Homo sapiens: one gene and its partner. The protein of the gene in region 2 binds, or shares a complex with, the protein of the main gene of each other region. Links are inferred from orthologs where the notes say so. Each region holds a gene or a part of one and is shown on either strand. Other genes may lie near its edges.

Evidence for each region.
Region 1: the proteins of MUSK (region 2) and DOK7 are in contact, whole or in part, in a crystal structure (PDB 3ML4), measured with the Mus musculus proteins. The link is inferred for Homo sapiens from one-to-one orthologs. Residues at the interface, in NP_035074.2 of Mus musculus: Leu547, His548, Pro549, Asn550, Pro551, Met552, Tyr553, Gln554, Arg555; in NP_001335203.1 of Mus musculus: Leu154, Ser155, Asp156, Leu157, Arg158, Arg159, Tyr160, Gly161, Gly172, Thr173, Arg174, Ser193, Asp197, Val200, Arg201.

Annotation. Positions count from the first base shown.
Region 1 is NC_000004.12:3,473,306-3,484,409, reverse strand, and holds part of DOK7 (protein Dok-7), read right to left. Parts: intron 11,005-11,104; coding exon 10,774-11,004; intron 9,471-10,773; exon of another isoform or gene 8,652-9,470; intron 8,110-8,651; exon of another isoform or gene 8,069-8,109; coding exon 7,868-8,068; exon of another isoform or gene 1,995-7,867; coding exon of another isoform or gene 960-1,994; exon of another isoform or gene 503-959; intron 1-502. Other genes in the region: vegetative cell wall protein gp1-like, read left to right, coding at 960-1,994. UniProt on the Homo sapiens protein: Probable muscle-intrinsic activator of MUSK that plays an essential role in neuromuscular synaptogenesis. Acts in aneural activation of MUSK and subsequent acetylcholine receptor (AchR) clustering in myotubes. Induces autophosphorylation of MUSK.
Region 2 is NC_000009.12:110,669,427-110,680,836, reverse strand, and holds part of MUSK (muscle, skeletal receptor tyrosine-protein kinase isoform 1 precursor), read right to left. Parts: intron 1-11,410.

The DNA of each region.
Region 1 (11,104 bases), on a different chromosome or scaffold from region 2:
TTGGGGGGAAGGGAAATCTCGGCATTAGAACCCCCGCTGCCTGCTGCCCAGTCATGCTCTGCCTTCACGGAACACAGGCTGTAGATTCCAGGGACACGGAACTCAGGCCAGCCCCGACACGTGGCGACGCTGCCGGCCCCTTGGCAGCCACCCCGGGCACACGAGGGCGAGCGGCACCTTGTGCTGTGGATGCTTCCTTCCACGTAGTGTCCCCAAACCGGGTCATGGGACAGCGCCATTCCTACTTTAGCAAAAAGGACACTGAGGCCCAGAGAAGGCACGCCACCTGTCCACCATCACACAGCCACGAGGTGGACTCAAGTCCAAGTCCCCTGGCCCCCTGTGCACCTTCTGGCCCGATAGAGCTTCCAGTCCTACTGTGGGTGAGGGGTGCTCCTGATCAGAATTGGAGGTGGGCATGGAGGGGAGGCCAATGCCCGCTGCGATGCCATCCAGGAGGATGCCCCGAGAGGCTCATGAGGGCCGTGATGGGGTGGGGCCCCCAAGCTGGGTAGGGTGGGCAGAAGAGAGCCTGCACCAGGCCCTGGGGGCAGGCAAGGAGAAGGCCGTCATGCTGTCTGCTGGCTGGCTCACTCAGTGCCAGGCAGTCGCTCCCTGTCCCCGTGGTCCACCCCTCCCTGTGAAGGGCTCAGCCGGCACAGCCCCAGCTCTCACGAAAGGCCAGGCTCTCTAATCCTGAGCTTACAGACAGCTGGCAGTGGCCACGGGACAATGAGTCCCCCGACTATAAAAAACCACATTACGGAAGGAGTGGAGCCGGCCCCGCATTCCATGCGGCGTCTGCGGAGCGTCACTCACCCCGAAGACACGGTCAACCGGGCAAGGCCTGGAGCACAGCCCACCGCCAGCCTCGGGCTCCCACGTGCCCACGCGACACCCTCGCCAGCCACCCCCATCATCCATGCCAGCAGAGCTGACATCAGTGGCCCTGGAGGAAGATGCCCATCTCCAATGCTGGTCTGCCAAGGTCTTGGGCCATGGCCTCCCAGGACACCGCACGACTAGGCTCTCGCTGGGCCTCCCTGGGTTCATGCTCCACCCCCGCTCCCACCCAGCCCCCCCCGGTCTTGGGAATGCTCAAAGCTCCCTCTGCACACCAGGTCTGCCTGCCATCTCCACTCAGGAGGCTGCCGTCCCCACCCTCCACACCCCTACATCTCCACTCAGGAGGCTGCCGTCCCCACCCTCCACACCCCTACATCTCCACTCAGGAGGCTGCCGTCCCCACCCTCCACACCCCTACATCTCCACTCAGGAGGCTGCCGTCCCCACCCTCCACACCCCTACATCTCCACTCAGGAGGCTGCCACCCCCACCCTCCACACCCCTGGCCACCTAGAACACCCCAGACCTTTCCAGACTCAGGCCACATAACGACACCTTTCATGATGCTTTTCTTGGCCTCTGGCCCCCTTCAGTCCCCTGACCCCGACAGCCCCTCTGTGGTGCTCTCACGGACGCCTCCTCTGGGGTTCAGCCCCACCTGCTGCCGTCCCGGCTGCCAGGCTGAGCACCTTGCCGGCAGGGAGCACAAGCCGTCTGTGGTCTCAGTGTCCACCCAAGCGCCCATAACCAGGAGACCCCCAGTGCTCGGCCTTGGGTGGAAAGACATAGGTGAGAGGCTGCTGACCGCCCCCCTGCCCCTTCCCCAAGACAGGGTGCGCATGTTTCCTGTTTGCCTGTGTGTTTGGGGAAAGGGGGGAGAACAGGGCCTGCCCCATTTTGCTATATCACACAGGTGTGACTGCAGCAAAGCCGGCCACTCTGTTTCCCCTATCCCTGCCCTCAGAGGCCGCTCCTTCTCCAGAGGCTGGTCCACTCCCTCCCTGGAATCGAAGCCAGCCAGTGATGGCTCTGGCATAAAGTGGCATGAGGGATGCTCTCCCAGCCCTGCCCCAAGACCGTCAGAGGCCTGGCAGCTTCTGCTCTCTTGGAACCTATTGAGAAGCCCAAGGTGTCCTATCGGAGGGTGAGGTTCCTGGAGGGAAACTGAGGCAACCCAGCCAACAGCCGGCACAGTGCTTTCCTGGGCCTTTGGGCCCCACCATAGCCAAATGCCACTGCCCGAGGGACCCCAGGCAGCACCTCATGGGGCAGAGATGAGCTGTCCTCACTGAGCCCCGTCCAGATCCCTGGCCCACAGAATTGCCAGCCAGGGAACAGCCGCCAGCCGCTAGGTGTGGCAGGGTAAATAGGAGTTAGCTCAGCTGTTAGAGGGTAAGCGGTGGAGGGGGGTGAAAAGGGCACGTCAGACATCTTTGAGCACAAACGGGTGTCCCAAAGGGCTGTATAGGAGCCCTGTTGTGGGGGATAGGAGGCGTGAGGGTAAGAGGAAAGAGCATGGAAGACGCAGAGAAGCAGGACAGAGTCAGCAGAACACAAGCAGAAGGCCAGGAGCTGCGGGGCTCAGGGCGGCGCCAACTCTGGACAGAGGCTGGGGTTGCTGAGCGGCAGGCAAACCTCACCCACGTTACAGACGCACCTGCTTCCTGAGAAACACGTCTCCAGTGAAAAAGCTGTTGCACTAACTCCAGGACTCACCGGCTTGAGAAAGAAAATGCTCCTCCACGCAGACATTTAATGAGCCAATTAGATCTAAGATGGTTTCCATCTGAATATTCTTGAGTGCCCTCGTGGCTGCCCCTTGATGTCAGAATCTTAAGTGCTCATAATCCCAGCTCCTCAGAGAACAAACATCGGGGTGACCAGGGTGTCCTGGATGGCTCATGCCAGGTAGGCATGGGCAGGACTGAGAAGTCTTGATAACATGACCCTCAGCCCTCTCCATCCCCCAAGGTGGCAGCTTCTTGTACACTTGGGAGTGGCCCCACCTAGTGGGTCTCGGGTGGAGGAAGGCCTGGAGCCTGGCAGTGGGTGTTGGCTCCCACCCCTCCTCTGCCCTCCTGAAGCAGCCCCAGTCCAGGGGCACCACTCTAGAAGGCCCCCCCTTCCCGGGCCGGCCCTCCTCCCCTTGTCCATCACCACCTTGTTAACATTCCTGCAATCCACAGGGTTCCCATCCCCCAACCAGGCAGCTGCTGCCTGGGGCAGCCTCGCCCTCCATCTTCTGGACCTCAATCAGAACCTTCTCTGGCCCCTGCCAGCCTCTTCCTCCAAGCTCATCTGCACCCCGGGGTCAACATTAGCATATAAAACACTCCCCATGCTCAAGCACCTTCAATGGCTCCCTGCTGCTCCGAGACAATGGTGCAAACAAACACTGGTCCAATTAGCCAGCTCTCTACAACCCAGCCCTGTCTCCTCCTCCTCCTCCACCCTCACGCCTCCTATCCCCCCCAACAGGGCTCCTACACAGCCCTTCGGGACACCCATTCGTGCTCAAAGATGTCTGAAGTGCCCTTTTCACCCCCCTCCACCCCTTACCCTCTGACAGCTGAGCTAACTCCTATTCACCCTGCAGAAGTCCCCTGAGGCTCGCCCCTCCAGAGAGCTTCCCCGCAGTGCCCCCAGCCTGGGGTCTGTGCCCCTCCTGGCTCCCCTCGCACCCTCTGAGGACTGAAAATGCCTCACTCAGTCTCACGCAGCCTCTGAGGCCGGACCGTCTGATCCCTAGGCCCAGCGCCCGGCAATGAGAAACTGCTGAAGGCGCTCCCTGCTGCCTGACAGAGGCCAGGGTTCCAGCCAGCTCTGTCCAGGCTGCCCCCGCAGGCTGCAGTGGCCAAAGGTGGCCGGCAGGGGGCTCTCCAGAGCTGGGCAGATGCCGCGTTCATGTAGCAAGAGCCTCCTAGTTCAGGTTTTCATTCTTTACTCTTCTTTTTTTGAGACAGAGCCTGGCTCTGTTGCCTTGGCTGGACTGCAATGGCGGGATCTCAGCTCACTGCAACCTCCAACTCCCAGGTTCAAGTGATTTTCCCACCTCAGCCTCTGGAGTAGCTGGGATTACAGGCACCTGCTACCACACCTGCCTAATTTTTGTATTTTTAGTAGAGATGGGGTTTCACCATGTTGACCAGGCTGATCTCGAACTCCTGACCTCAGGTGATCCTCCCACCTCCGCCTCCCAAAGTGCTGGGATTACAGACATGAGCCACTGTGCCTGGCCACATTCTTAATCATTTTTAAAAGTCAAAATGAGTTTCAAATGCTCCGGGCGGCCCCCAGAGGCTGGGCAAAGAGGCAGATATGGTCCTTGGACTGGACCCAGCTGGAGAGAGCAGGTAAGGGGGGAAAAAGGGGGCACCTCCAAAAGCTTCCATTCACCCTCAAGGCCCAGCTCAAACGTCCCCCTGCGCCTCCAAAGCCCTCCCTTCCTAGGCTCTGGGTGGGCTCACCCTCTCTGGGGCCCACCACCGTCTGTGCTGCAAGCTGAGCCTGTCCCAGGGCGAGTGGCCCTCTCTGCATCACTCTCCACCACGCACAGTCCATCCCCGAAGGCGGGGCCCAGTCACTTGCCCGTGTGTGAGGCTGGAGCCTGCAGACCTGAGCTGTCCACAGACCGTCGCCTGCCATGTGCCAAGTGCGCTCGGGCCAAGCTCCAGGAGTCCACACTACAGGCCCGTGACCAACAGAGACGGGGAATTGGGCCACACTGGGGACCCGGGGGTTGCTGTCACCAAGCCACCTCCTGTCCCATTCTGAACAGGCAGCTGTCCACAGAGAGACCTCTGCCCCCCAGGCACCAAGACCAGCCAGGCCTGTCTCCACCCGACCCCCACCAGGGCCCCCGTGATGCACAGCCACGCCCAGTGTCTCAGGATGAGTGAGGCGCAGCCATCGCCTTGGGCCAGGGTCACCCTCTCTGCTCTCTGCAGAGCTGGCTGTGGCGGGGCCAAGTGAGGCGGTTCTGGGGATCGGGGGCCAGGCTAGGACCTGTCCCTGGGGAAGGAGGGAATGTGGATTTCCTACACCCAAGAACTTCCAGGGCCTTCCCACGACTCCAGCCCAGCTGTGACCTCCAGACTGAATGTGACGACACCCACAGACTTATTGGGATTCAGATTCTGGATATTTCTCCGTCCCAGTGGCCCCAGTTGTCGGCCAAATGGTGGCCCACAAAATGTGTTCACATACCAGGGCCTGTGAACAGGAGCCTCTGCGGATGGAATTGATGGTCTCGGGATGGGGTCACCCTGGGTCATCCAGGTGGGCCCTAAGTCCACAGACTGCAAGAGACTGAAGAGGAGGCTCACGCAGGAGCCAGCAGGCGCAGGGACTGGAGTGGCACAGCCACGAGCCGAGGCCGCCGGGGCCACCAGCGGCTGGAAGGGGCAGGAAGGACCTTCCCATGGGTCCTCCCCAAGAGCTTTTGGAAAAAGCCAACCCTGAGGACCCCTTGATTTGGGGTTTCTGGCCTCCAGGCTGCAGAAGGAACCCGTTCTGGACACTTGGCCCTCTCTTGGGGGTCATCTGCTACAGAAGCCCCAGGAAGCTGATGCCGCTGCCCCTGGACCACCCGAGTTGCCGGCTCCCTCCCGCAGGAGGCCCCAGGCTGCCCACACGTGCCGCAGACTCCCCGTCCCTCCAGCCAGACGGCCTGCACTCAGTGCTGCGTTGAGAACACCACCGCTTGGCCGAGTCTAAGACCCAGCCTAAACCACCCAGGGTGGTGGCCACGCCTGTCTCCAGGAGGATACAGCCCAGCAGGGCCTGCTGGGGACAGGGATGGGTGGCTCGGCCAAGCCTTCCAGCCTGGCCTCCAGAACCCACCTACCCTACGGGGTGTGCAGCCGTCGGTGACCGAATTCCCAGAGCCCTTCCTCTCTCAGGCCAGGGTACCACCGGGGACGAGAACATTCAGCACTGAGCTGCAAAGGCGGGTTCTGTGGGGCCAGCCCCCGTTTGCGGGTTCTGTGGGGCCAGCCCAGTCTGCAGGTTTGTGGGTTCTGTGGGGCCAGCCCGGTTTGCAGGTTTTCAGGTTCTGTGGGGCCAGCCTGGTTTGCAGGTTTGCGGGTGGGGCTGCTCTAACAGCTTGCCCCGGAGAGGCAGCAGCAAGACAGACGGCCCCACAAGAGTGCCCCCAGCTTTTGAGCAGCCCAGGAAAACGGCACAGTAGCCTCGCCCTGGGGAGAAGCACAGCCCCAGGTGTGGGATTGTTTACCAGCGGAAAAGGGGCCACCCACACCTCGGCAGGGATGTGAACCTCCACGGCCTCAGAGGAAAAACATCCAGTGTCCCCATTCCATTATGGCCCAGACAAAATAAGCAGGTCTCCAAGGAAACGGGTCCTCCTGCTGTGCCCCGGCTTAGAGGGTGAGCACGCGGCGCCACCCCGGCCGGCTGCCTGCCCGTGCCAAGGAATTCCACAGACAGAAAGGAAGGTATGGGTCCCCCTCCTCCAGGCACCCCCAAACCTAGCACACAACAGACAGGACAGGCTGCCTGTGTCAGGACAACTACAGCCTGCAGCTCTGGCTTCCCACACGACAAAGGACAGGGACGCTGGGCCCACCCACTGTGCCCAGCCACCGCCAACCCACTCCCCAGTGGCTCCCGAAGCCCCAGTACTGAACCTCTGGCCTGCCGCAGGGAGGGCCTGGGGGCAGATGGGACCCCGACAGGTGTCCTAGCTCTCCCGGGAACCACCCCCCACCCCACCCCCCGCACCAGCTCACAGCTGGCATAGGCAGCGGCCCTGCCCATCCATACTGGCTCTCCAATCCCAGAGGGGCCAAGGCCCTTTGGACTCTGGCTATGGCCCCTGCCAGCCCCAGGGGCCGAGACTCCGGGCCAGCTCTGCCGCACGTGCCTCCTGCAGCTGGCTGTGTACGCCCCCAGTCCGTGGAGCCTGAGCCTCACTGCCCTGTTCCCCTTTCAAGGGTCAGATGTCGTCTCCTCAAAGGCCCCAACAGGGCTGGCTCCTGCCACAAGACCTACTGGGTTTGCTCCCAGCGCCCAGCGCAGAAGGTGGCAGAACGTGGCACCCAGATGGGCTTGCGCCCGTGCCCCAGCTGGCCTTTGCAGGATGAGGTCCCAGGCGGCCAGTGTGGCCCGTGTCCTTGCCTGCGTTTCCTCCACCCAGACACATCCAGGCTCCACCAGAGCCCCCACCAGTGTGAGCCAAGTGCAGTCCCTCAGTCCTCTCAGCCCCAAACCAGGCCCACAGGAGGTCCCTCTGCCCGCCTTCAGCCCGGCCAATGAGCAGCTGCCCCTCCAGAGAGAAGAGAGGAGGCGTCACACCCTCCGCGGGGACTGCAGGTCCACAGGGCAACCTGGCGCATCTGCACCCAACATGGGAGAAAGTGGAGGGGGTTGCTGGAACAACCTGCTCCTGCACAGCCCCGGCGGGCACCTCAGACTCTCTGGGCAGGGCTGGGTGCCTTCCTGCTCCGATTTCCCTCACTCCCCTGGCTGAGTGAGGACAGCTCTCAGGCCTTCACAGGCCCAGAGGACTCAGGCCATCCCCACCCACGGCCTGGCCACCTCACTGGGGACATTAGGGCAGCTCTGGGCGGCCCACAGGCGGGGTGGCTGGCATGTCCACCAGGAATTCTTGGTCCAAGAATATGTTTCTGCGGTGCTTATGCGGGAGCTCACACTCCCCACTGCTAAATGCGTTTGTTCTTTGTTTTTTCCTTTCCATGAAATCTGGATATGAGCGGCTCTGAGGCTCTGTGGCCTCAGGCCCCTCCTCGCATCCCTGAACTCTCTCCCTCCAGTGAGGAAGAGCAGAGGTAGCCGAGGCCCCTCCTCGACACTCCACACTGAGGTTCCTGCGGGCAGAGGACCTTGGACATCGAGCGTGGGGAGACTCCGTCCACCTGCCGGCGCATTCTGGAAATGCCAGCAGGCCAGCCTGCAAGTGGGGTCGGCCGGCCCGAAGCCAGCAGTTCTCAGGGGAAGTGGGGGGTGCTGCTGCTGCCCAGTGACCCCACACATCCGTACTTACAGTACCCACACCTGGTCCCGCCTTCAAAGATGAATCCGCTTGGCACGGCCCCGTAGCGCCGGAGGTCAGACAGCTTCCACTGCCCCGTGACAGCCGGGGGGATGTCCCTGGCCAAGACGAGGACATCATTGCAGAGGTGCAGGGTAGCCGGGCCGCTCTCCAACTTGGTGCCTGGAGCCACTGTCACATGGAACCTATGCACTGCGGGCAGGCGGGGCAAGAGGGCATCACGGGCGGGCAGGGTGAGAGGACATCACGGGCGGGTGGGGTGAGAGGGCATCACGGGCGGGTGGGGTGAGAGGGCATCACGGGCAGGCGGGGCGAGAGGGCATCATGGGCGGGTGAGGTGAGAGGGCATCGAGGGTGGGCGGGGCGAGAGGGCATCACGGTCAGGCGGGGCGAGAGGGCATCATGAGAGGAGGCAACAGGGGCCACTGTGGACAGGTGGGGTGAGAGGGCATCTCGGGAGGAGGCAGCAGGGGCAGGGGCCAGGCTGGGGCAGGTGGGGGCAGCCGCCCAGGTGTCAGCCGGGGAGGCAGCGACGGCAGGATGAGCAAATGGCACTCCTCACAGCCACGAGGGGGCCTGGGGGCTGCACTTCTCTCCTTGCCATCCTCCCAGGAACTATCTTTGTTCAGGGGCAAGGAAGTCCCAGAGGGGCCTGACCTCGGACCTCCACCTCCCTCCCCTCCCACCACGGAGGTGCTAGGGAGGACAGGGCAGCTGAGTGCCCTGGCTGGGCTCCCACCCCCGGCACCTCTCCAGGAAGGCTCTCTCTCCACAGCTGTGTGGCTCCATCACAGAAGGGGAAACCGAGGCTCAGGGATCCCCCAGCCTCCAGTTCGGGTGTGGAGAGTCTGGAGTCTGTATCGAGGCCCCAGCCTGGCCACGGGAACCTCAGGGCACCACCGGCCCTCTCTCCATCCAGGTGGCCATTCACCCAAACCCTGAGCACCCCCATGGTCCTGTGCACTGGCTCTGCCCAGGCCCCTGCCCCTGAAAGCCTCAGAGAGGACAGTGGTCCTGAATGCTGTCCCCACCTCCCCTGTCTTCCCAGGTCAGCACACCAGGCAGACAGCAGCCTCCCCACCAGGGGCCCCACCTGCTCCATCTCCAACCCCCAGAGCCAAAGGGACCCCTGTTCCCATCCCACCTCCCCCTTCTCTGCCTCCTCTACCTGCTCCAAGCTGTGGCCTCAGGCGCATCCTTGTCAGGCCACGTTCTATCAAGATGAAGCTGCCTGGGCGGTGCCCAGCGGCCTCTGTGCCATGGCCCTGCGCCAGCGGATGAAGGAAGCAGACCCATGCCGCTGAGCCAGGCTGGAGGGAACCCCCAACGGGAGAACTTTCTGGAAAGATGCAGTTCTTCCCTCCTAATGTCTCCTTCCCCTGCGCCCTCCTGCAGAGCCAACCGCACCTCCTCCCACTAAGCCCCCAGCTTCTCTCTCCCCACTCAATGGAGCAGGAGGGGCTGCTGCCTTGGGGACAAGACTGGGGGAGCGGGACACTCACCTCCAAGGCCAAAGAACTCAGCCATCAAGGGCCAGGATATTTTAATCAATATTTTAAAAAGTAAAGTTATGCAGAGTCCATGCTGATCAAAATAGCAAGTTTTTTTGTGTTTGTTTTTTTGAGACAGGGTCTCACTCTGTCGCCCAGGCTAGAGGGCAGTGGCACAACCTCAGGTCACCGCAACCTCCACCTCCCAGCTCTTTTTTTTTTGAGATGGAGTCCTACTCTGTTGCCCAGGCTGGAGTGCAATGGCGCGATCTCAGCTCATTGCAACCTCTGCCTCCCAGGTTCAAGCGATTCTCCTGTCTCAGCCTCCTGAGTAGCTGGGATTACATGTGCCCACCACCACACCAGGCTAATTTTTCCATTTTTAGTAGAGATGGGGCTTCGCTATGTTGGCCAGGCTGGTCTCGAAGTCCTGACCTCAGGTGATCTGCCCGCCTTGGCCTCCCAAAGCACAAGGTTTACAGGCATGAGCCACTGCACCTGGCCATCATTTTTGTATTTTTAGTAGAGACGAGGTTTCGCCACGTTGCCCAGGGTGGTCTGGTCTCTATCTCCTGGGCTCAGGTGATCCACCCACCTCAGCCTCCCGAAGTACTGGAATTACAGGTATGAGCCACCGTGCCCAGCCTAAAATAGCAAGTTTTTAAAGGGAGGGCAGCTGTGGCTGCTGGGATTATTGGGTGGGTGCCAGGGTAGGACCAGGACTCAACTCAGTGGACATTCTACTGTTTTGCTCATTATGGGGTTTTGGCACTGATTTTGGTTTCTTAGGAGATGCAGGATTATGCTTGCTCTGCCGCTGAGTGCCCAGGGCCCCATCACCACCCACCTCTGCTCACAGCCCCAGGGCAGCTCAGCCCCCAGAGGCCCCCAGGCACCCATTCGAAGCCCCTGCAGGGCTGGGACTGACGTTCCACCTCTTCCAGGGCCAGTTCCACAGGGGAGCACTCCCTTCCCCTCCCTCTCCCCTCCCTCTATTCCCTCCCTCCCTCCCATCCTGTTTTGGGGGGAAGCTGGGGTGGGACCGCCCAGCCTGGGGCTCTCCTTCCTAGCCAGGCTCTGGGCTCCACTGTCCAGTGTAGGAAGCAAAGGGCAGGGCTTTGGGAAGCCACGTCCCTCCAAAGGCCACCAGCTTGGGTTAAAGGCTCCAGTTGTAACTAACGGTCAGGCTAGGGAGCTCTAAAGACACCATAGCCCAGCAGACTCCCCCTCCCAAACCCTCGTGGGCACCCCCAGGCTGGAGCTCAGTCCACCCTAAGGCACCCATGAATGTCCCATCTTCCTGCACGGTTCCCTGGAGCCGCTCCCACCTCTGCAGCCCACGTTGGTGAGGGGCCCCGGCACACCTGAACGGGGAGCCCCCGCCCGGCCCCGGCCCCCGTCACTCACCCTCGCCGAGCGCATAGCGGATCCGGGCATCCCACGCACACATGGCCTCGTGGCTGTCAAAGCCCAGCATGATGGCCTGGGACAGGCAGACAATGGCCAGCGTGTGGACCAGGCCCTCGTAGGGCAGGCCGGGCTCCAGCCCGCAGATGTCCTCTAGCGTCAGGCTGCTGCGCTCCCGCAGGCCCTTGATACGCTCCGACTTGTCCTTGTAGACCAGCATCAGCAGGCAGTCTGCAAGGAGCGTGGCCGTCAGGGACGCCAGCCAACACCGCCTGCCCGCACCCTTGGCGTCCCCGGGGAGGCCGTGACAGTGCAGAGACCCGGGCTGGGG
Region 2 (11,410 bases):
GAGTTTGAGAAAAATAAAAGAGGGGAGCAGCCTAGAAGCAATATATAAAGAGATAAATGGCTGATAATTTTTCAAAACTGAAAAACAAACCCTGGAATATTAAGGTCGAAAGTACCCACCAAATGACAAGACAGATTTAAAAAAGAAATACAGCTGGGCATGGTGGCTCACACCTGTCATCCCAGCACTTTGGGAGGCCGAGGAGGGCAGATCACTTGAGCTCAGGAGTTCAAGACCAGCCTGGCTAACATGGTGAAACCCTGTCTCTACTAAAAATACAAAAAATTTAGCTGGACATGGTGGTGCACACCTGTAGTCCCAGCTATGTGGGAGGCTGAAGTACTATAATCGCTTGAACCCAGGAGGTGGAGGCTGCAGTGAGCTGAGATCGCACCACTGCACTCCAGCCTGAGTGATAGAGGGAGACTCTGTCTCAGAAGAAAAAAAAAAAAAGAAAAAAAGAAAGAAATTCATACTTGGACACATTGAATTAAAACTGTAAAAATTAAAGATAAATAAAATCTTAAACTCTACCAGAAAGAAAAAGTTTAATTCCTTAATAGGAATGCCAATTTTGGGTAACCTGAGATTATTCAGCAACAACAATTGATACCAAAAGGCAATAGGCTAATACCTTTACATGACTGCGTAAAAATAACTGTTAGCTTAGAATTACACAGCTAGCTTAGGTAATAATTTTAAACTCAGAACACTTATAAACAAATATTGAGAGTGTTTACCACTCACAGACTTTCTCTGAAATAGTTACTAGAGTAAATAAACTCACTAAGGAATAATTTATACCAGAAAGAAAGGGGTGAGTTATAAAAAACAATAGCATAAATGGTGGTGAAATACCATTGCAATTTTAACACACTATGGAATATTAAAAAATCACAAATTTTTGTGTTTAAAAAGAGTGGAATTAAATTCTAGACAAACAACTATAAGATCAAAGTTCAGGAAAGAAGTTTAAAATGCTAAGTAATTAAAAAATGCTAAGCTCTTTGCCATAAACAAGAGGACAGAAATATTGAATAACTTCAAACAGAAAGAAGCATCTATGGTTAAATGATTATGTTAAAACCTTATTAATGGTTACTACTAAAAAATAAATAAAATTCAAAAATTCCAAAACAACAGAGAAAAAAAGAGGTACCAGAAAGGCTTTATCAATCAAAAACAAAAGCAAAAACAAACAGGAAGAAGAGGAGGAATAAATAAGCCAAGAAAAAGCATGGTTAACAGAAGACATAAAATAATATGGAAGAAACAAGTCCAAATATACCAGAAATCACAGTAAGTGCCAATGGTATAAGCTGACCTATGAAATGACAGATGCTATCAAACACAAAAGACACACTTAAATAAAATAAAACAGAAATGTTAAAAATAAAGGGGAGGGAAAATATGTATAAAGCAAACGATATCCCAAAGAAAGTGACATAGCAATAGTAATATAAGAAAAATGTAATATAGGGGCATATGCATTTATAAGAAAAAAAGAAACATTGCTTAATGATAAAAGGAACAAGCCCTAAAAAGATATGACAATCATGAAACTTAATTATTTAAAAATATGGACTCAAACCCAAAAGTAAAATTATCACAAGAGTACATGGAGAAATGTTTTAACATAGTGTAACCCTTTAAGAGATCTCCTTCAGACACTAATATATCAAACAGAACTACAGTAAAGATATAGAAGATATAAACATCAAAATTAACACTAGATATAATGTACATTTATAAAACAATGAAACAATTACAGAATACATTTTGTAAATGATGCATAGATGAAACATTCAAACATAAAGAAAATATACCAAGCTACATAGGAGATTTTAACCCAGCTCAAAGAATTGATTTTATATAGTCTATATTTTCTAACCATAATAAAATCTGTAAGAAATAGACAATAAAAAGATAGCAAAAAAACAAAAAATCCCAATCCTGTTTATAGATCAAAAGACAAAAATATAATTATATATGTAGTAAAACAGAATAGCAGAATTAGTAAAATTAATTAAACAGATATGCACATCAACTGTAAGCCCTGATAGATGACACATATTTTCAAATGCCCATGAAAATTAAAGCTTAAATAAATTTTAAAAACAGATTATATGTCACATTCTTGGACCACAATTCAACAGAGCTAAACAGTAATGAATATTTAAAGATGAAAATCTAAAGAATTAAGAATTTTAAAAACAAAATTGTTCACATGTAGTAAAGGGTGGGGTAAAATCATCAACAATACTCACAGAAGAAAAAGATTAGATTAGCAAAGAACACTTCTGAAAAAAATATAATGCCCCAAAGTTTTTCAGATAAGTTTTAAAAAACTCTTAAGAAAGAATTAAGTCTCCAGTTACATAAAAGCTACAAGGAGCCAGGTGCAGTGGCTCATACCTGTAATCTCAACACTTTGGGAGGCTGAGGCAGGATGATCCATTGAGCCCAGAAGGATCCACTGAAGGATCCAGGTGTTTTGAGACCAGCCTGGGCAACATGGCAAGACTGCATCTCTACAAAAAATACAAAAATAAAAAAATTAGCCGGGTACAGGTGGCACACATCTGTAGTCCCAGCTACTTGGGAGCCTGAGGCAGGAGGATCACTTGAGCCCAGGAGGTCAAGGCTGCAGTGAGCTGTGATTGCACCACTGCACTCCAGCCTGGGTGACAGAGAAAGACCTTGTCTCAAAAACAAACAAACAAAAGCTATAGGGAATATAAAGTATAGAAAGCTTCTCAAATCAATCTTTGGAATAAAACAATGCTAATGTAAGTCAAGCAGGATGTAAAGCCCTAAAGTAAAATTTTAAAAAGCAAATTAAATTAAATCATAAATTTCAAAATTATTACTATGCATTTAGGCAGAAAAAAAATCCTTGCAAAAATATAAGGATAATTTAATAGAAAAGTCCTTTAAACAGGATTTACTATAGTCATAGTTTAAAAGATACCTATCACAGTCAAAAAGGCAGTAACAGAGTTAACTATCCATTCCCTACTTGAAAACCATTAGTAGAGTCGGAATATAATAGTATTTCTTTAACATGATAAATAATGTTTCTCAACCACTGAACTTGATAAAACTAGGAATAAAAAAAAACTACACAATACATTCACACACATTCACAGGATGATTCAAATTTGGCTTGGTGCAGTGGAGAGAGAAGAGTGTTCCAGGCAGAGGAAACGGTACCCGTGAAAGCCTGAAGACGGAGGGAGGCTGGTGCCCTAAGCCAATTAGAAGAAAACACAAACATTTATAAAAGATGGGTGGGAGAATGAAGAGTTTAGAAAAGAGACTGAGAGGAAGAAATCAGAGTTGTAAGCAAAGCCAGTGGAGGCTATTGGCAGAGCCCAAGAGTAGCACACGTTTCACAAAAGAGGGAGAATCAAATGCTGCCGAGACGTTAAGTTAAATAAGGACCTAAAAGTGCCCACTGAGTTTCCTGATGAGGAGGTCATGTTGATTTTGGTGCTTGCAGATTTGGCGGAAGCCAGATTGCAGTGGTGGGGGTTAGGTTGTGATAAGGAAGTGGAAACTAAGAGGAGAGGGAAGACATCTTTTTGCAGCAGAGTTTAACAATAAAAGGGAAGAAAGGGGCTGCATGGTGCTGGAGGTGAGTATGGTGACAAGAGTGGGTTTAAATGCTGACTGGAAGCACCTAGTAGAAGCAAAAATGTAGGACATTGGAGAAAGACAGGAGATAATTGAGGGAAATAGGTCCCTGAGAAAGCAGATTTATGTGGGGCTCAGAGGAAGAAAGACGGGTTAACCACGGATAGGAAGAGAAAGTCCTCTTAAAGCACAGTGAGGGAGAAGGAGGACAAGATGGATGCAGAGAGGTAGGTTTTTCCCCTTTGCTGGTAGGCAGCTGAAGAGAGAGCTTCTTATTTAAATGCTTCTCTTTCCTCAATGAAATAACAGCCTCTGAAATTTGTAAAGATACATGCACACCTATGTTCACTGCAGCACTATTCACAATAGCAAAGACATGGAAGCAACCCAAGTGACCATCAATGATAGACTGGATAAAGAAAATGTGATACATATACACCATGGAATACTATGCAGCCATAAAAAGGAATGAGATTATGTCCTTTGCAGGGACATGGATAGAGCTGGAAGCCATTCTCTTCAGCAAACTAATGCAGGAACAGAAAAGCAAACACCACGTTTTCACTTATAAGTGGGAACTGAACAATGAGAACACATGGACACAGGGAAGGGAACAACACACACTGGGGCCTGTCAGCAGGTGGGATTGGGGGAGGGAGAGCATTATGAAAAATAGCTAATACATGCTGAGCCCAGTTATTTAGGTGATGGGTGACAGGTGCAGCAAACCACCATGGCACACGTTTACCTATGTAACAAAACTGCACATCCTGCACTTGTACCCCGGAACTTAAAATTTACAAAATAAAATTACATACACATACACACACATATATAATATATAATATATAATATATGTGTGTGTATGTGTATATATACAACATATATACACTTACATATACACACACACATATATGAGAGAAAGAGACTGAAAGAATGAATAGCAAAATGCTAAGAGCACTTATCCCTTGCTATGAGCATTATGTGTAATTTTATATTTTTGTTTTTCTGTATCTTACAGGATTTTTTAAAAAAATGAATACATATTGCTTTCATAATAGAAAAAAATTGTAGCAGATAGAATGCCAAAGAAGTGTTAATTTTCAAAATGCAATGGAGGCAAACTTATAATTCATAAAGTTTGAGAAAGTCAATCTCAATAAAAAGTTATTTTCTAAACAACGAATGAATGAAATAAGCAATTAATAGTATAATCATCTAGATATTGAGAGATAAAGAACAAAAACAATATTTTATTAAGCTTGTGGAGTGTGGTTAACAATGAGCCCAAAGGTTAATTGATGATGTTGAATGCTTTTACTGTTTAAAAAGAAAGACTAGGCCAGGTGCGGTGGCTCACGCCTGTAATCCGAGCACTTTGGGAGGCCGAGGCGGGGAGGACCACGAGTTCAAGAGATTCCTGGCCAACATGGTGAAATCCCATCTCTACTAAAAATACAAAAATTAGCTGGGTGTGGTGGTGCAGGCCTGTAATCCCAGCTACTCGGGAGGCTGAGGCAGGAGAATCACTTGAACCCAGGAGGTGGAGATTGCAGTGAGCCGAGACCGCACCGCTGCACTCCAGCCTGGGCAACAGAGTGAGACTCAGTCCCAAAAAAAAAAAAAAAAAAAAAAAAAGGGAAGACTATTGAGCAACTACACATTAAGAGGCAATGTAGCGGCCAGGCACGGTGGCTCACGCCTGTAATCCTAGCACTTTGAGAGGCCGAGGCGGGCGGATCACGAGGTCAGGAGATCGAGACCATCCTGGCTAACAGGGTGAAACCCCATCTCTACTAAAAATACAAAAAATTAGCCGGGCGTGGTGGCGGGTGCCTGTAGTCCCAGCAACTCGGGAGGCTGAGGCAGGAGAATGGCGTGAACCAGGGAGGCGGAGCTTGTAATGAGCTGAGATCGCGACACTGCACTCCAGCCTGGGCGACAGTGCAAGACTCTGTCTCAAAAAAAAAAAAAAAAAAAAAAAAGAGGCAATGTGGCACAGGACTTGAATTCACATCCCAGCTCCATCACTTACCGACTCTGCAAGTCACTTAACCACACTTAACCTCAGTGTCTCAGCTATAGACGGAGATAATGTATAGCCTCCACATAACTTGTCACAAGGAATAAATAAATGGAAACCATTTAAAATTGTCCTTGGTCCACATGGAGCACTGTGCAAATGTTACTTGATTCTATAATTTAGAAAAAGAAACCCAGGCTGTTTGATTGTTTTCCTTGTCTTTATTACATTCAAATGTATTATACCGTTAATATTTTATCTCAGGCTGGGTGTGGTTGGTGGCTCATGTCTGTAATCCCAGCACTTTTGAGGCCGAGGTGGGAGGATCACTTGAGCCTAGGAGTTTGAGACCAGGCTGGGCAGCACAGAGAAACCACATCTCTACAAAAAATTTAAAAATTAGCCGGCATGGTGGCACACACTTTGTAATCCCAGCTACTTGGGAAGAAGCTGAGGTGGGAGGATCAACTGAGCCTAGGAGTTCAAAGTTTCAGTGAGCTGTGATTGCACCTCTGTACTCCAGCCTGTGTGACAGAGCAAGACTCTATCTCTAAAATAATAATAATATCATCATCATCATCATCATCATCTCTGGGAATCTATCCTAAGGAAATAATCTCACATATAGAAAGGCATATAGGTGACTTTTACTGCAGAAAACAGATCAATTGTACTAAATTCTATTAATCGTAGTCAAGTGGGAGAAGATTGAGGCACACAAGTTTTGTCTTCCGCAGGTTTGCAAGAGCCACTTGGTAATTTTTTAGGAATTTTGAGAGGTGATTGTTATATACAATCATTATTAAAAACTAAGTTGTATACATTTATAATCAAATATATTAAAAACAAAGTATTAATACTTGAAATTCCCAATGATTTAACTACATTTTATTATTATATAAGTTCTTGAGGTTATCTGTAATGTGTCTGTGTGGTAGAAATAATATATGAAGGATGCTACTACACATGCTATTTCCCAACTCAGTGCTCATTATTTGATAGTAGCTTGAGACTGGCCACAGACACAATAGAGTTTTTTACTATAGAGTATTTTACTGCAGAAATAAACAAGAGCAACAAATCCACGTCTTTTTTTTTCTCAGTGAGGTGAATATTAAACATATACTAGCACACTGTTATCTAAACAGAATATTATTTAGTCACCACACATGACGTTTGGAAGATTACTAATAATATAGAATATGCTCATGCTTTAGTGCTAAGTAAAAATAGCAGGCAGCACAATGTTAATAAGGACTTTAAAAATATGTAGAAAAAAATGGAAGAAAATATGCCAATGTGTTAATAGTCCTGGAAGTATGGATGACTTCTTCTGTCTTAAACTTTATGTATTTTGCATTTTCAAAATCAATCTTAAATACCATGTGCTACTTTTATAAGAGAGAAACTTTATGCACTAGTGTTATTTTCACTCAATACACAGATGCAGAAGTGGCAGAGGTAATAGACTTACTATTAATGTTATCTTTCCAATGAGGTGACACACTGGAGATGTCACATGAACTGTTGAGATCAGTTAAGATCAAAGAAGTGAGTCTTAGAATGTCTTGGAAAATAGACATGGAGAAATATGGAAGGTGTTACTAAGAACTTTATTAAGTTAACACCTTCCCATAAGATTCAGTGACATAACAGTCTTGTGTGAAGTTTGACTGTTTTTACTAATATTAGCATCTAAAAGTGATTAAGAATCTGGTATGTGCCATGCATTATACTTTTTATTCATTATCTTTTTATTTAACACAAAAAAGGTAGATACTATTAATATTTCCACTTGCAGACCAGAAATGGGGACTAAAAATGGTTGCACAACTTGTCTACATATCACAAAAATAGGAAGTGATAGAGCTGAACTAGCTGAACTTCAGGGTTAAAGTTGGTTTATACTTCCTTTCTCTAAGACATACTGCATCTTCAAGATCATACTGATTATGCACAGATGGATAAGAGAAGATGTACATCAATATCAGTTTCTACACACAGAATGCCAAGTCCACATTGTCCATATTTCCAGTTATCCAAATCTGCTTTCCGGTTTTCACTGACACAATCACATGGATCAGTTGTATTTAATGATATTTGTTGACTCAGCACACTGTCTCTTGTTTACTTTCATTCTACTATCCAGCTTTCATCTCAGCCAGAGCTCGTTTAAACTAGGGCACTATTTCTTCTCTCAATCCAAGGACTACATGAATAACAAATACATGAAAATGAACACAATCCTTTTCTGGACCCGAAGAAAAGCTTGACTTGGATATCAACTGCTTGATGAGAAGGACATGACATTACCTTTCCTTTGTATTTTATGGGCTCTCGCATATGACTATTGACTTACCAACTTTTGATTGATTATTTTTGGATTGACATGACCCAATGATTGGGTACATAAAGAAACAAGGTGTATTTGCTCCTTTCTATTTTAGTAAAATTAGGGCTCTGACTTGGAAAATATTCATGTTTCTCTAACATTATGAATGCAGTATTTTTTTTTTAGTACAACAAAACACTTTGGGGTTGGTTTAAACTTTTTAACCTTCTCTTCCAAGCATTAAATATCCTTGTTTTACTTTCTTCCTGATCCAATCTGTATCTCATGGTACGCTGCCATATAACTCCAACTCCTTTACTCTCTAGTTCTTTAGCTGTACTGACCCTGGAAAGTGCCAATCCTGAATTAATCCAGCCATCTGTCCTCCCTACCCTATGTTCACATAGCACTGCTGGGTATAGTGCAGTAAATGTTCAGGTCAGGGGCACTATAAAGAAAGCTGCAGTTCCTAGCCCCAGCTGGGTCTTCAGCATGGCCCATGTGATCCTCTCATCTTCCTGAATAGAGCCACTCCTTTCAGGCCCTCTTTCCACCCCTCACTTGTTACTCTCCTTCAACGACATCAGGTTTTATTTCACTGAGAAGCTGCCTACTTCATTTACCTTTGGAAATAAGGTAGAGTTTAAAGAGATCTTGAAATTTCTGCTCCTTCCTTCTTTTCTTTAAGGTCAATAATATTTGAAGCAACTCTGTTTACTCAAACATGCAATGAGTAACTCTTTCAATGCATGTCAATATAAAATATTCATCCAGGACTGTGTGTCCTGGATTTCAATGACAGCTGTGTCAGTCATGACTTAGTCATATGTCAAATCTGTGAATCCTATCCTTATATACATACAATTTAAAAGAGGAGGTTATTCAAATCTATCTAAAGATAAAATCACGTACGCTCAAACACTTCAACGTATTGTAGTAAGTCGGGTGTTTTGAAAGTGAGACTTTTGATAGTTCTTTGTGCATATTAAGCAAATCCAGAGCTGCTTACATGAACTCTTATGCTCCTGCAGAATCTAACATTGCACCATACATTTAATACTCCCTAATAAAGCATTAAATGTTATTGATGTATGTAGTTAAGCCAATTATCCAGTGGAACATTGGCTACTTTCATAAATGACAGTTTGTGAAATTCTACTACTTGGGTTATGGCACTGAATTCATCATTGAAAATATCACTAGTTGAAATGATTCAGAAAGACAATGATTCTTCCCCTTATCATTGGGCATTAGTAGCCTTAATTAAACTAAAATGAAAACTATGAACAATTAATTCTACAAAGTTGGATATTAATTTTTATCAAAAAATGATGTGCAGAAAGTCAGAAAATAATCCACTGAATACTTTTGTGTTATTTTAAATATGTCAATTTATTAGCTAATACATATTGTACAATTTCCTTTATGCATTCATGATAAAGGACTTAGGAAGAAGTATATTATCTAAAAAACTCTTTTTGTTATTACCGTCTGCCAAGAATAGGGAAAACAGTAGTTTTCTAGAAATAGTAGAAATAGTTTGGGTGGGCCATTTTTATTAGTTTCAGTAGTATAATGGCTGGCGCAGTGGCTCATGCCTGTAATCCCAGCACTTTGGGAGGCCGAGGCAGGCAGATCACGAGGTCAAGAGATGGAGACCATCTTGGCCAACATGGTGAAACCCTGTCTCTACTAAAAATATAAAAATTAGCCGAGTGTGGTGGCTTGCACCTGTAGTCCCAGGTATTTGCGAGTCTGAGGCAGGAGTATAGCTTGAACCTGGGAGGAGGAGGTTGCAGTGAGCTGAGATCACACCACTGCACTGCAGCCTGGCAACAGAACGAGACTCTGTCTCAAATAATAATAATAATAATGAAAATAATAAAATTTTATTGTGGTTCTTTTCTACCAATGTATTCCTCACCCTTCAACATTTAAAATTTTAAGGATTATGCTTTCATGATATTAGTTATTCTCAGAACTGCTGTATGTAGTAAATAAATGTTTGTTCTCCTAGACATGGTATTTTGGCTAAGAGTGATGTTAAACTCATACTAATTTAGATTTTACAGTACAATAGACTGAGAAAAAATTGCTTAAATTTTTTGATTTTAAAACCTAATTCTAGTAGTAAATAAATTATAAGAAATGAAATTGGGTGAATGATCTGGTTAGTTTATTTAAAAGTCAGGGTGTTTGGCTTTGTTATCTCTATGCCACTATATTTCAATATTTTCAAAATAGAGATAGTGTGCATTTGAATTAAGGGCTTTATTTGTAAAGTTTGGAAATGAAAATCAATTCTTTCTAGAATATAAATTAAGACTTATTCAGATAGAGAGATTTTGGGGGTTTTGTGTGTGTGTACAACAAATCCTTATTTGAATCATCAAAATCAATTGTCCTGCTCTTTATAAGACTGTATTTTAGTATTTAACCCTATCATTTTTATGTAACTGCGTGGTTTAGAAATATACAAATAATACTTAAGACAACCCATACGTTCAAACATCCAGGTGGGGCCTTACCGGACATCCGTTGTTTGATCAGGAAGTATTAAAATAATCTGAAGCCAATGTTAAGTCTTTCTGACTATTATTAGCTGTTTGAAAAGATCTAGAGTCTCTTTTATCTGTAGATGCCTTAAAGTATTCATTAGAAATTAAATGTTTAAATACATTTGAAGATACCATTATACTCAAGTAAAATGGAAAAAGAGAAGCAACAAAATGAAACAAAAAAATCTGTGAAATCAGATTGTTTGTGAAGAAACCCGCATCTTATTTGCATGTGAACTTTGACCTTATGGCTCCAGAATTTTTAGTGAACCAGAAAATCTAAAGATACATTTTGCATCTATATACAGATACCACCTTCATTTATCTACACAATACAAACTGTTTCAGTGCTTTGATTAATATAAAGGGAAAATGATTAATTTGAACATGTCCTGAAGCAAAAATCTCTTTTTACTCTATGGTATAACATTAAATTTGAAAACTCTTGTATTGATACCACTCGATCTGCTTTCTCATGTCTTTTTAAAAAAAGATTTCAGTGATACCCTTAGTCACTTTGCAAATCACAGACTTTCCAGTCTTTCTGATTTCAAATACGCTAGTCCCAGTTTCATAATACACTGGCCAGAAACTATATCACTGGACATTCTTGCTACTGCAACAGGTGTTTGTCAGTTTCTTAAGTTGCTTTCCTTTCCCCTGAGGTGGTGTTATTTCCGGTACATTCCAAAGGCTCTGAAAAAAACTTTTGCAGTCTCTTGCCAAGCCAAATCATGACTCCAGCCTCAAAGTTATTTAAAATCCATTGTCTTCCGGGTTTGTTACACAGGCAAATTGTGTACGTCTTTCTGTATTTCCAATTTTTAGCAACTAAAATATTTATTAAGAGTTTGGCAAAGC